4 linked regions of the Homo sapiens genome follow. The protein of the gene in region 1 purifies or fractionates together with the protein of each later gene. This does not show direct contact. Each region holds a gene or a part of one and is shown in the gene's direction. Other genes may lie near its edges.

Region 1 (3,500 bases):
TCAGAATTCTCTTCATTCTTCCTATGCCCCATGTCACCTTTTTCTGGCCTCCAGAGGGTGCTCCAGGAGCATCACACTGCTATTCCCCAAAGACTGCTTTTTTCTTCTCTCTCTCTCTCTTTTTTTTTTTAAGTTACTGCAGTATTCTGGGCAATCTACTGGAAGAACAGAGTCCCGATTCCATACATGTTAGCTGCCTCAACTGGAGTTTGTTTTCCAGCTGGACCACATAGCCCTAATTCATTAAGTATTCTAAATTAGAATATTTTAAAACATTATTCTGATGATGTTGATGCAGTGGTTAGCTTGCAAGGGGACATCTGTCAGATTAATTCCCTCTAGGAATTTCCCCCAAGAGAATCAAGCATCTTTAAATACCTTCCAATCACGCCTTACAACAGCTCCCTCCCACTGAAGTGCACATGGTACCCACAAAGAGATTTAGTGCTATTTAAGAGTTTCACTCTGGCATTGGAAAACTATAGGTGAAAGCATCAAAGTTGGACAACAGATCTTTACTAACACATTTGTTTTCATCTCTTCCTATCTCTCTGTTTCCTCAACCCAGGGGCAACAAATGTTTAGGAGCCCCACTTTGATTGAGTGCACATTTTTGAACACAGGTTTGAGTGACTAATTCTTGTGGATCATGGGCTGATTTTATTTATGTACTTTTTTTGAGACGGAGTCTCACTGTGTCACCCAGGCTGGAGTGCAGTGGTGCCATCTCGACTCACTGCAAGCTCCGCCTCCCGGGTTCACGCCATTCTCCTGCCTCAGCCTCCCGAGTAGCTGGGACTACAGGCGCCCACCACCACGCCCGGCTGATTTTTTGTATTTCTAGTAGAGACGGGGTTTCACCGTGTTAGCCAGGATGGTCTCCATCTCCTGACCTCGTGATCCGCCCGCCTTGGCCTCCCAAAGTGCTGGGATTACAGGCGTGAGCCACCGCGCCCGGCGGGGCTGATATTTTAATATGGTCACACAGGCCTTGTTATTTATGGTTTACCTGCTTATGTTAATTCCACCCTGTACTTGTTATCTTTGACATGAGTTACTCTCAGGATATTACTCCCCTTCCCTTTTTAAAGTGTAATATTGTTCCCATTGTTTCTTGCTCCAAGAAATCTGTCGTTGATGGGAATAGTCTTTGACTGCCACAGTGCCCCGAACCTTTCATTCCACAGCTTTGATGGGCAGGGAGCTGCCTTCTCTGGGCAGCTGTGGAGTTTTACTTTCAATGATATGAGAGTCACAGAATGTTTTATTAGATTGAATCATATGAAATTGTCAGTTTTGTAGGTCATACCTGGCTGAATATTGTCCATGTCATACAGTTTAATATTTGGACTTTGAAAAAGTAATTTGACTTTACTTATTCTTTACATATTCTTTAAGTAATAATGACAACTTTGAAAAAGAATTATGTACGTTTTTGATAATTAAATAGGATTGAAGTAATACATAAAAGAAATCTGAGCTAGGGATAATTGAAGCAGTAACATTTTTTACAACCAATAAATCAGCTAAAATCATATCCATATTAAATGAATTTAGCATAAAATTAGAATGACAGAGCAACTAGCATTTTCCCTTGGTGAGAAAAGTAGTAAGTTTCCACCATAAAATATGACTCATTTTTATTTGACCTATTAGCAGATAGTTGTTATTGCACCTTATCTTAACCACCATTATTTCTACAGAGAGATTACAGAGCAATGAGTAGGAAATATGGAAGATTGCTGAATAATCCTGGCTTTAGTTATGGAGTAATATGAAAAAAGGAAAAGAAAACCTTTTGTTCACTTTCACAGTACTACATCAATGCAAGCTTTTTAGTAGTTTTAATGTATGAATTTTATCATCAGGTGAAAATGCATCTCATTATTAGATGGCCTATTTTATAAATAAAGTTCAAATTTCGATATAGCCAGTTTTTAAAACTGTATATGTTTATAACTCATCCCTTTGTTGCATATAATCTCCCAATTTTAGAGACTTACATTGCATTTTTAAAGGATAGCACAGTCTCTTTAGCAATCCCACAGGGAATCTAAAACCAGCCTTTACAAGGAGATGTCAAAATTCCAATTTGCAGTGATATTTTTGTCAAAACAAGTAACGTGTGTTATTACGTATAGTAAGTTAACACAATTTTTCATTTGTGTATCAAGTAGGCATTGGTTTTTGTTTTTTGGTTTTTGGTTTTTTTTGAGACTAAGTCTTGCTCTGTCACCCAGGCTGGAGTGCAGTGGTGCGATCTCAGCTCACTGCAAGCTCCCCCCACTGGGTTCATGCCATTCTCCTGCCTCAGCCTCCCAAGTAGCTGAGACTACAGGCGCCTGCCACCACACCCAGCTAATTTTTTTCGTATTTTTAGTAGAGACGGTGTTTCACTGTGTTAGCCAGGATGGTCTCGATCTCCTGACCTTGTGATTAACCCACCTCGGCCTCCCAAAGTGCTGGGATTACAGGCATGAGCCACTGCGCCCAGCAAGTAGGCATTGTTTTTGTGTGTACGTATCAAATCTGTTTTTATATCTTTTGGTATTTTATCTCTTTTCTGCCAACAGGGTGAAATGGAAGTACAGTATTGGGATTATGCACAACATTTTATTGTTTAAAATTATAGTATTCCTTTTCCATTCTGTTGTTTCAGTTGTTTAAAAATAAGTAACAAAAGAGAGGGGTCTGTCTTGAAGCCCATGAGATGGTAGATCTTTAGAAACAGTTATAATAGCAGTCATATTGAAACTGATTGTCATCTATTTCTGGGAAAAATATTGAAGGCTGGTATATTGTCCCCAGAAGGATTAGATGAAATACAGAAAATAGATTATGATTATAATTTTTTTTAGTGAGGTCACCTTGCTGTAGAGTTGGAACCTTCCCGGGGGATTGCTCATGCATTATCCATTTTGGGAAAGAGTAATACTTACAGGCATTATGGAAATGAGCGGGTAGGTTTGTCAAGAGGAAACCAATAATTTGAATACTGAGTTGAATGGAAAATGAAATACATGATTTTCCATATATTAAATTGAATAGAAATGGGAGACTTATGTCTTGAGGGTTTTTCTTTTCTTTTTTTGAAACATGTTGATGATATTGTGTGTTCCCAAGTGCCCTCAACCTGACAGGAAGGAGAAATGTCAATAGAAATAGTTACTTATTATATTTTGATATTTAGAAAGGAACAGTGGAGTTTTAAATGTTGTGCATATCATTTATGCCCCATCCAAAAGGATAGCGATCCACTTAAAAGAAGGCAGAAAAGACAAGGACCGCTATCGTTCTCCAGGAATCAACAGAAGCTAAGGGAGAGCGTAGAGTATAGTCCCTGTGGCCTCTACGGAGTCATCGCCTTCTCAGACTGAATCCACACAAGGCCGCCTTGACTGAAAGAGCCTCTACATTGGACTGTGCATGGCGTGGGGAAATGTGATTACTTGCAATATGCTACTGATTACAGAATAAATATTATGCATTCGGTTTTCACT
Region 2 (3,500 bases), on another chromosome or scaffold:
AAATTTGTGTTCACCATGACCACAAAGCCATGCCATAGAGAAAAGATTTGTTGGTTTCGCTCCACTGTTGACAGGAAAACGTGGATTAGGGTTAGTCTTCATGGATCCAGTCGTGTATGCAATAAAGAAAGGCATTTACTACACAAAGTTCAGAGGACTTCGAAACCATTCTACACACAGTTTATTCACATCCTGATTATGATTTAGTTGTTGAAGGAAATAATTAAAATCATAAGTATAATCAGACTGTAGCCATCAAGTGTGTGTGTTTGTGTATATATATGTATATGTGTATGTATAATTTTTTTACTATGACAATGAGAGGAAATAGGCAGCAAATATGACTTTGCTTTCTACTGTGCTTTTTAAAGGCAGTTTTTATTATCAGCATGTAGTTTTATAATCATTGAAAAGTTAATGTCAAGATAAATACTTAGGAAAAAATATTGAATTTATCAATTGGTTCTAGTATAATCTTTAATGTTATAAATATATTAGTATACTGTGTTTTTCAAGTGCAATTTTGCTAAATGAGTCACAGCTTTTAAATCTGGAATATTATTAAGGATGGTGATCACAAATACCTTGAGAATTATTTTTGTGTCTAGGTTTAGCGACACCAGTAGACTTGAAGCTAAAATTGATACCCATTCTACAGCACATGCACCATGATGCAATCTTGGCTTCCAGTGCTCGTCAGCTTTTACAACAGCTGGTCACATCCTATCCGTCCACCAAAATGGTGATTGTGTCTTTGCACACTTTCACTCTGCTTGCAGCGTCATCTTTGGTTGATACACCTAAGCAGGTAATTTCAATTTTCTTTAAACTGCCTATCTTTGGTAAACTTACATATTAAATATATGATTAGAAATAAGAAAGTGGCCCACAAGTCTTGAGGACATTAAGGTTCTTTTCTCTAATAAAGGTCAGATTAATTTGCTTTTGCTTGCTTTTTTATTCTCTCTGTTCACAGTACTGATTGTTGGGAGCCCTTGAGGAAAATGAGATGTTATGGAGTACATGGCTGGGTGTGAAGTTGGCCGTATAAAAAAAAAAAAAGAAAGGATTGAGTATCTGTAAAATGCCAGGGCCTGTGCTAAAACTTTAAAGTTAAATGGTAGTATTTTACAAACATGGAGAAAGAGGCCCAAATGTGGGCACATAGCTAGTGAGTGACAGGGCTCTGATTTGAAGTGAGTCCTGTCCCTTTATAAGTTTCACTAAACTACACTGCATTTCTAATGATCATTTCAGTTACAGTATTGTTTATGGAGTGACTTATTTCCTTTATAGATTCAGCTTCTGTTGCAGTATTTGAAGAATGATCCCAGGAAGGCAGTAAAGAGACTTGCTATTCAAGATCTGAAATTACTTGCTAATAAAACACCACATACTTGGAGTAGGGAGAATATTCAGGTATGTAGAACTTGTAACATTTTATATAGAAAAAATAATATAACATTATAATATAGTAAAATGTTTTGCATTTTTATATTGTCTTTGTCATCTTCTAAGTGGTTGAATATGAAAAACTTCTAAAAGCATTGTTGATGTTTGTGGCAGTTATTTTATAAGTGGCACAATAAATACATAAAACTTCTATACTTCAATGTTTGTTTTAGTCAGTGAAACTTGCCACTCAGTTGCTTGTTCATTCTCCCATAGTGGCACTAAGGCTAATTGAGAAGCCCAATTACATTGGTTTGGTTTTTTTATTCTTGTATTTTTCAGTCAATTTGGGGAGAAAAATTTAGGGGCTGAATGTTATCTGTAATGGAGGTAGGGCTGGATGGGCAACTTGGGAAATATATTTCTCTCTTCCTGGAGAGCTGAAGACATTCCTAAGTCTTCTTTTGTAAACAGAAGAGCAGATCTCACTCTTTAGACTTTTAATGTGCATCTTTGACACCATCTCTTACCATCTGTTAGGTTAAATTAATATTTTATGTTTATTTTTTTCTCAAAATAGAACCCTGTTTGTTTACCCATTACCGATAGAAATAACACCATTTTGCAAATAATGCTATTTAAAATGGAACGGTAGTTTTTATCTCTCAGCTTCATCATGACTCCAGTGGATTAAAAATCTTTGAATTTCAGATTATTAAAACTAAACTGCTGTGTTTGTTTTTCTGTTTGTTTGTTTGTTGTTTTCTAAACATCTTTTAATTTACTATATTATGATTTGATAGTCACAGATATCCCAAGATAAGGGCAGTTGTTAAATCTGCATTTAATAGATAAGCAGTTAGGGTTCAGAGAGACTTAATATGCTTAAGAGAGCATCTTAAGAGAAGTAAATTAAGAATTTAATTAAGAGAGCTTCTGTCCTCTGATCCCTAGTCTTATTGCTTTTTCTACTAAATAATGCTATCTTTCCAAGAAGAGAATGTGCCCAGCCACTTTAGTCATTTTAGAGAATTTGTACAAAGAACCAAACCCAGTTATTTAGAAAGATGAGTGAGAAGCACAGTATTATTCCTTCTCATTTTTTTCTTATTGTGAGATAGATCATACATACAGAAAAGTATGTAAAATATATAAATAGTTTAAATACCTTTAAGTGAGAAAAGTATGTAAAATGTATAAATATTTTAAATACTTTTAAGTGAAAACCCATGCAACTACCATCCAGCTAGAAATAGAACATTACAGGATCACAGAACCCTGCCTCCTTCCCTTGCGTGGTCCTTCCTGGTTGAAACTTTACACCTTCCAAAAGCAAACCACCATTTTGACTTTCATGATAATAATTTCTTTGCTCTTCTTTTACCTTCTTCACATGTCTTCCTAAAGAATACTGTTTAGCTTTGTTTTTGTTTCTTTTGCTCAGCATTACACTGGTGAGACTCATCCATGTCTTTCCCCTTTAATTGTAATGTACTATCCCATTGTATGAATGTATCACAGTTTATTTGCTCTCGATGGGTTATTTCCGCATGGGCCTATTGCAAACAGTGCAGAACATTCTTCTGTTTGTCTCCCAGTTCACACACGCAAATTTCTTTAGAGTGTATACCTGGGAATGAAATTTCTGACTTACAGAAAATGCGTATCTTCAGTTTTAACAGATGATGTCAAACTGTTTTCCAAAGTCAATGAACCAGTTTACATTCCTGCTGTGTATGAGGGCGTCCATTAATCACATCCGTACCAACACATAGAATTATCAGACTTACGTTTTTTACCAGTTTAGAAGTTGTACTTTTTATGTGTAGCTCCTTGATTATTAAAGAAATTGAACACCTTTTTAATATGTTTATTGACCATTTGGATTTTCTCTTATGACATGGCTATTCAGGTCTCTTGCCTATTTTTCTGTTGATTCATAGTTATTTTTTATATATTTGGAATACTCATACTTTGTTAGTCCTTGACAATTCTATATAAATTTCAGAATCAGCTTGTCAAATTTAACAGTTTGATTGGGATTACACTGAATATAAAGATTAGTTTGTAAGAAATTGGTAACTTTATAATATTGTCTTCCAGTGCAT
Region 3 (3,500 bases), on another chromosome or scaffold:
ATATGAAAATGTATTTCTGTACCTTATGATGGGAGGTTATATAAATAGTTTGATTTTCTTTTTCCTATAAAATTGGTCATATGCAGAGAGAAATATTTAGTATTTTAAAAATGATACAAAGCCGCAATTATGACCTGGTGATTTATTTTAATAGGGTCAAGAATTTGCTCCAAAAAGTGTGGCAATAATTGGTCATTCTATGGGTGGCCTTGTTGCAAGAGCATTGCTTACACTGAAAAATTTTAAGCATGATCTGATAAATCTTCTTATTACACAAGCCACACCTCATGTTGCTCCTGTGATGCCATTAGATCGTTTCATTACAGGTGAGTACTGTTACATGAACATTAACCTCCCCATTGTTATTTAAGATTAAATAAATCAATCTCTGTGGCTATTCCCCTAGGAGTATGCTACAGATTTATCCATGTATGAAGCAACTCAGTTGCAAATCAGCACCTCCAATTCTGAGTGTCTGTCTCTTTATATTATTGAACTTAGGCTTATAATTGAAACTACTGTTAAGTTTTGTCTGTCCATAGCATCTTAACATGGTTGACATGTGTTTTATAATTTCTAGGCACTAGGGCTTCCGTTTAGTTTTTTTTTTTTTTTTTTTTTTTTTTTAAAGACAGGGTCTTGCTCTTTCTCCCAGGCTGGAGTGCAGTGGTGCAATCTCAGCTCACTGCAACCTCCACCTCTCAGGTTCAAGCGATTCTCGTGCTTCAGCCTTCCAAGTATCTGGGATTTTTGCCGTATTGCCCAGGCTGGTCTTGAACTGCTGACCTCAAGTGATCTGCCTATCTCAGCCTCCCAAAGTGCTGGGATTACAGGCATAAGCCACCATGCCTGGCCAGTTTAGTTATTTTTGAGGATGGTACCCTGTCTCTTAAGATGTGTTTAAACTTCCTATGCTTTGTTAACTGTTTTAGGACTGTATCCAAAATAAGCTTATATTTAAGTAAGATAGTAGCAATGTCTAGTTTTTAAGTACAAAGGTATGCTAACACTTTATATAATGAGATATAATTCCTAATATTTATTGAGCTCTTAGTATGTTATGGATTTTAAAGACTTCATGTGATGTGTTACCACACTTAATCCTTACTGCAGTCCCATGAGGTAGGCACCATTATTATCCTCATGTTTATGGATAGAAAAAGGCCAAGATAACGTTCTTGCCCAGAGTCATGTGGCAAGAAAGTAGTGAAACCAGTATTTGACCCTGGCAAAATTGCTTCTGGGCTTGTGCTCTTAACCTTTGCATGCTGTACTGCCTCTTAATTGAAGTACATTAACATAGGAAATAAAACCGTAGATAATACTATAATCTTGCAGGAATTTTGAATGAAAAGTAGGAGTTTGTGATTGACATCGTCTAATCAAATAGTGATAACGTCACAGAATAAGAATTAAATGTCTGTTATCTCAACTTATTGTTAAAAAAAGCCAGAGATTATCCTCACTGCTTATAGGAATATTATATGAGTAGATGAAAATCTTTAGAAAGAATTCTTTCTGGTTAGTAAATGTATATAGCTTCTTACCTATAAAAATTTGCATTATCTTAATTTTTTTTTTTTTTTTTTTTTTTTTTTTTTATTATACTCTAAGTTTTAGGGTACATGTGCACATTGTGCAGGTTAGTTACATATGTATACATGTGCCATGCTGGTGCGCTGCACCCACTAATGTGTCATCTAGCATTAGGTATATCTCCCAATGCTATCCCTCCCCCCTCCCCCGACCCCACCACAGTCCCCAGAGTGTGATATTCCCCTTCCTGTGTCCATGTGATCTCATTGTTCAATTCCCACCTATGAGTGAGAATATGCGGTGTTTGGTTTTTTGTTCTTGCGATAGTTTACTGAGAATGATGGTTTCCAATTTCATCCATGTCCCTACAAAGGATATGAACTCATCATTTTTTATGGCTGCATAGTATTCCATGGTGTATATGTGCCACATTTTCTTAATCCAGTCTATCATTGTTGGACATTTGGGTTGGTTCCAAGTCTTTGCTATTGTGAATAGTGCCTCAATAAACATACGTGTGCATGTGTCTTTATAGCAGCATGATTTATACTCATTTGGGTATATACCCAGTAATGGGATGGCTGGGTCAAATGGTATTTCTAGTTCTAGATCCCTGAGGAATCGCCACACTGACTTCCACAATGGTTGAACTAGTTTACAGTCCCACCAACAGTGTAAAAGTGTTCCTATTTCTCCGCATCCTCTCCAGCACCTGTTGTTTCCTGACTTTTTAATGATTGCCATTCTAACTGGTGTGAGATGATATCTCATAGTGGTTTTGATTTGCATTTCTCTGATGGCCAGTGATGATGAGCATTTCTTCATGTGTTTTTTGGCTGCATAAATGTCTTCTTTTGAGAAGTGTCTGTTCATGTCCTTCGCCCACTTTTTGATGGGGTTGTTTGTTTTTTTCTTGTAAATTTGTTTGAGTTCATTGTAGATTCTGGATATTAGCCCTTTGTCAGATGAGTAGGTTGCGAAAATTTTCTCCCATGTTGTAGGTTGCCTGTTCACTCTGATGGTAGTTTCTTTTGCTGTGCAGAAGCTCTTTAGTTTAATTAGATCCCATTTGTCAATTTTGTCTTTTGTTGCCATTGCTTTTGGTGTTTTGGACATGAAGTCCTTGCCCACGCCTATGTCCTGAATGGTAATGCCTAGGTTTTCTTCTAGGGTTTTTATGGTTTTAGGTTTAACGTTTAAATCTTTAATCCATCTTGAATTGATTTTTGTATAAGGTGTAAGGAAGGGATCCAGTTTCAGCTTTCTACATATGGCTAGCCAGTTTTCCCAGCACCATTTATTAAATAGGGAATCCTTTCCCCATTGCTTGTTTTTGTCAGGTTTGTCAAAGATCAGATAGTTGTAGATATGCGGCATTATTTCTGAGGGCTCTGTTCTGTTCCATTGATCTATATCTCTGTTTTGGTACCAGTACCATGCTGTTTTGGTTACTGTAGCCTTGTAGTATAGTTTGAAGTCAGGTAGTGTGATGCCTCCAGCTTTGTTCTTTTGGCTTAGGATTGACTTGGCAATGCGGGCTCTTTTTTGGTTCCATATGAACTTTAAAGTAGTTTTTTCCAATTCTGTGAAGAAAGTCATTGGTAGCTTGATGGGGATGGCATTGAATCTGTAAATTACCTTGGGCAGTATGGCCATTTTCACGATATTGATTCTTCCTACCCATGAGCATGGAATGTTCTTCCATTTGTTTGTGTCCTCTTTTATTTCCTTGAGCAGTGGTTTGTAGTTCTCCTTGAAGAGGTCCTTCACATCCCTTGTAATTTGGATTCCTAGGTATTTTATTCTCTTTGAAGCAATTGTGAATGGGAGTTCACCCATGATTTGGCTCTCTGTTTGTCTGTTGTTGGTGTATAAGAATGCTTGTGATTTTTGTACATTGATTTTGTATCCTGAGACTTTGCTGAAGTTGCTTATCAGCTTAAGGAGATTTTGGGCTGAGACGA
Region 4 (3,500 bases), on another chromosome or scaffold:
CACATATCCTTCTAAAACCTAGTTTTTACAGTGAGACATGTTCCATTCCTGTTACAGAGTCCCTAGACTATGAATCTGGGCCAGGTCTGTACATTAGCTAGAACTGCTCTGTTGAAATCTACTTCCCAAACCCCCACATGTGCTACCAATTCCTCATTCCTCAGTTCTTTCATTCCTGGAAGCGGAAAGCTTATTCAGATGTGTCATCCTACTGTATTTAAGATATTTTGGATAATATCTTAAATCTTGGTCAAAAATAAAATTCTTCATTTTTAAGCATGCTTTGTAGCCAGCTGTTTATTTCTGTGACCTCCCTTTTCCTTCTCAGTCACAGCCCTTAAGGCAATGTCCTAACCTCCTGGTGTTTTGTTATCTGCTCTGGGTTAATCACGTAACAGTAGTGGTGGCTTCTCTAAAAAGCTGAAGGTTCTTATTCTTTTCCCTTGAGATTGCACACATTCATCTGCTAAAAGATAAGGGGAGGAAAAAAACTGTTAAAATGTTATGTGGGATTAGATAAACTATAAATTTATTTCCAGTTCAAAAATTGATTTTATATAATGAATATAAGAGGGACCTGTGAATTTGTGTTTAAATACTCTCACACTATACAGCTTTAAAAAAAAAAAAAAGCATATCCTTGAGTTTTTTTATTAAGGTTTAGAGATTACTAATCTTTCTTCAATTTAGCATTACTTGTTGCTTATTTAATATTTTTGCATCTCCTTAGAAGAGCTATACTTAGCCAAAAGGTGGAAACAACACAAATGTCCATTGACAGGTGAAGAGATAAACAAAATGTGGTATATATGTACAATGGGATATTATTCAGCCTTAAGAAGGAGTGAAATTTTGATATCTGCTACAACATGGATGAAACTTGGAAAATATTACCCTAAATGAGCCAAACATAAAAGGACAAATATTTTAGAATTTCACTTATATGAGGTACCTAGAATAGTGAAATTCATAGAGACAGAAAGTAAAACAGTGGGTGCTAGGATCTGATAGGGATAGGGAGAAAACAGATTGTTTAATGGTACAGAGTTTCAGTTTGGGGTGATAGAAAAGGCCTGGAAATGGATAGTGGTGTTGGGTTGCCCCACCATGTGTATGCACTTATTAGTGACATTTAACTGTACACTTAAGGATTGTTAAAATGGTAAATTTTATGTTACACATATTGTACCACAATAATAATAATAAAAAAAAGAGTTCTATACTCATGTGCCAAAGTTGCCTGCCAGCAAGTTACTGTCATCTGCATTGGTGGTTGGATGGATCAGTGAGTGTCACTGGATGGGCACCAAGGTGATGATGTCAGTGGCCTGCTTGCTTGGAGTTTTCCCTCCATTAGCAGCTATTGGAACTCAGAATGAGGAGAATGGAGCTGGAAATCCTGCTCAGTTTACTGTACATCTCATTAAAAGCAAATATTTAGCCACAGCTTTCTCTTAGAAACATTTACACATTGAAACCCATGCCTTCGGCCGATGGTGTTTCCTCCTCAAAATATTTTTTGGCTTGCTCCTCAGGTGAACTTGTTTTAACATTGCTCACCATCATCTACTACACAGATACAGGTGCAGTTATTGAAGTCCGTGGCTTCAGATTAAAAGCTCAAATTAAATCTTCAAGAACCTCAGATGCAGCCATGCATTGCTTAAAGACGTTTGGCCACTCCGGCAGCCGTAGATTGTTATTCGCTGTTGGCCTGGCTTCTTCCGAGAATGTACTTTTAACGTTATTTGCTAATAGTGCTCCCTCATCCTGTCTGCTGTCACAGTATACTGAAAGCTGCATCAGGTAAAGGCACATTAAACATGAATATGGGCTCTCCGTGATTGCTCCCAGGCCGTTCTCTTGATCTTATCATACCAGTGGCCATTATGTGCAATATTATTTCACTTTTCATTTTTCTTGCAGTTTCACCACTCTGATTGCCTTTCAACCTGGCTACTTCATTTCATTGCTACTAACTACCTCATCTTCAGTCAAAAGCCTGAATTTCAGGATCTTTCAGGTAGATTGCTAATTTCTGTTTTGAAAAGAAAACTTTATGTTCTTTGTTCTTAGATTTGAGACATAAGTTGTAGAAGTAGTACTTTTAGCAAAATAAGAATAGTCAATGTAATAAATTTCTTGTAAATTATGCAGTGTGGTAATTGAGGAAACAATTTATAGTCACCTGTGTTACATAAGTGCCTTAACCTGTGTTACACAAGAAGTTTTCTAATGATTATTTTATAGCTCCATCCGTTTTTAAATGCATTTTCTTTCCCTGAAATAGATAAGGTGACAAAATGTGTCCTCAGGTGACATTTGGTTGTGAAAAGTGATATCTTAGTTCTAACTACCTAAGTCAGCAGCAAAGTTTAAACAGTACAGATTTAAAAATTTTTTATAAAGGAATTTAACTCTTGTTAACTATATTATATTTAGCTTTATTGTACTGGATATCTGTATTTACTGAGTATACCTATATGGGAGTCCCTTATATTACTTTGGAATAACAGTTTTTCATATATAAAAAATGTTGTGAAACTTACTGGGAGTGTATGTAATATGCTTTCTAAGGTAAATTATAAAAATTAAAACCAAAGTGTGAACTACTGAGTACTGCATAAAAAGAAAAAAATGAAAATATAATAGTTGTCAGAATAGACAGTTTAGATGCAGTGGTTTGCTCATGTTATTATCTAGCATAGACTCAAGGAAAATTTGAGCTAAAAAGAAAAGGAAGTGAAAGATTACCTGATCAAGGAGTTTCACAATCTGGACAAATAAATCTCCGTGGAGATAACTGAAGTGTCTTCTAGGGTGGGGGACAGAAAGTAGGGAGTGGGTGAGGAGAAGGAGAGAGAGAGGGAGTAAGGGAAAGGGAAAGAGAAGGCTAAAATTTACAGTTCTTGGACTCTTCCCTCCCTCCTTCAGTCATAGTAGTTCCACTTTATCTGTTTCATATCTTGAGTTCTACCTAAAATTTTACTTCGTAAAAAAGACTCTGCTGGTAAAAGATATAAAAATCATATGGTCAAGATGGTGATTCCACCTCGGTGTAATCCCAGCCAACTTGGGAGGCTGAGGCTGAAGGATCACTTGAACCCAGGAGTTTGAGTCCAGCCTGAGCAACATAACGAGACTTCTGTCTCTAAAAGAAAAAAGAGTAAAAATCTCTTGTTTTTATTCAGCTACTTGTGCAGTTAAAGAAAACCCAGGAACACACAATCCGTTTTTGGGAGATGTATTCAGCCAGTCAACAAACATTATATGTCTATTAGGAGCCTCCTTATATAAGTCAACTATTAGTACAGTAGAGAAGCATAATCACATCAAAACAAAACAACAGTTATTTATTAGCTATGTACTTTGTGCAAGGAAAAAACAGTCAGTTCATAAAGATAAGGCTTGTGTATGCTTGCTGTCAGAAGGAACATTCTTCTATAGTTATTTAAGTAGCTGCTTCTATAGTTATTTAAGAAGCTTGCTAAAAGTTAAAT

Evidence for each region. Proteins that work in one complex are often made in the same cells at the same time.
Region 2: the proteins of NRG1 (region 1) and INTS7 purify together in Homo sapiens (affinity purification with mass spectrometry; 3 studies listed by BioGRID and IntAct, with this or other methods). This does not show direct contact.
Region 3: the proteins of NRG1 (region 1) and PGAP1 purify together in Homo sapiens (affinity purification with mass spectrometry; 3 studies listed by BioGRID and IntAct, with this or other methods). This does not show direct contact.
Region 4: the proteins of NRG1 (region 1) and RHOBTB3 purify together in Homo sapiens (affinity purification with mass spectrometry; 3 studies listed by BioGRID and IntAct, with this or other methods). This does not show direct contact.

What each region holds. Positions count from the first base shown.
Region 1 is NC_000008.11:32,554,811-32,558,310, forward strand, and holds part of NRG1 (pro-neuregulin-1, membrane-bound isoform isoform HRG-alpha proprotein), read left to right. Parts: intron 1-3,500. UniProt on the Homo sapiens protein: Direct ligand for ERBB3 and ERBB4 tyrosine kinase receptors. Concomitantly recruits ERBB1 and ERBB2 coreceptors, resulting in ligand-stimulated tyrosine phosphorylation and activation of the ERBB receptors.
Region 2 is NC_000001.11:212,004,558-212,008,057, reverse strand, and holds part of INTS7 (integrator complex subunit 7), read left to right. Parts: intron 1-608; coding exon 609-808; intron 809-1,296; coding exon 1,297-1,419; intron 1,420-3,500. UniProt on the Homo sapiens protein: Component of the integrator complex, a multiprotein complex that terminates RNA polymerase II (Pol II) transcription in the promoter-proximal region of genes.
Region 3 is NC_000002.12:196,909,708-196,913,207, reverse strand, and holds part of PGAP1 (GPI inositol-deacylase), read left to right. Parts: intron 1-154; coding exon 155-326; intron 327-3,500.
Region 4 is NC_000005.10:95,786,836-95,790,335, forward strand, and holds part of RHOBTB3 (rho-related BTB domain-containing protein 3), read left to right. Parts: intron 1-1,926; coding exon 1,927-2,023; intron 2,024-3,500. UniProt on the Homo sapiens protein: Rab9-regulated ATPase required for endosome to Golgi transport. Involved in transport vesicle docking at the Golgi complex, possibly by participating in release M6PRBP1/TIP47 from vesicles to permit their efficient docking and fusion at the Golgi.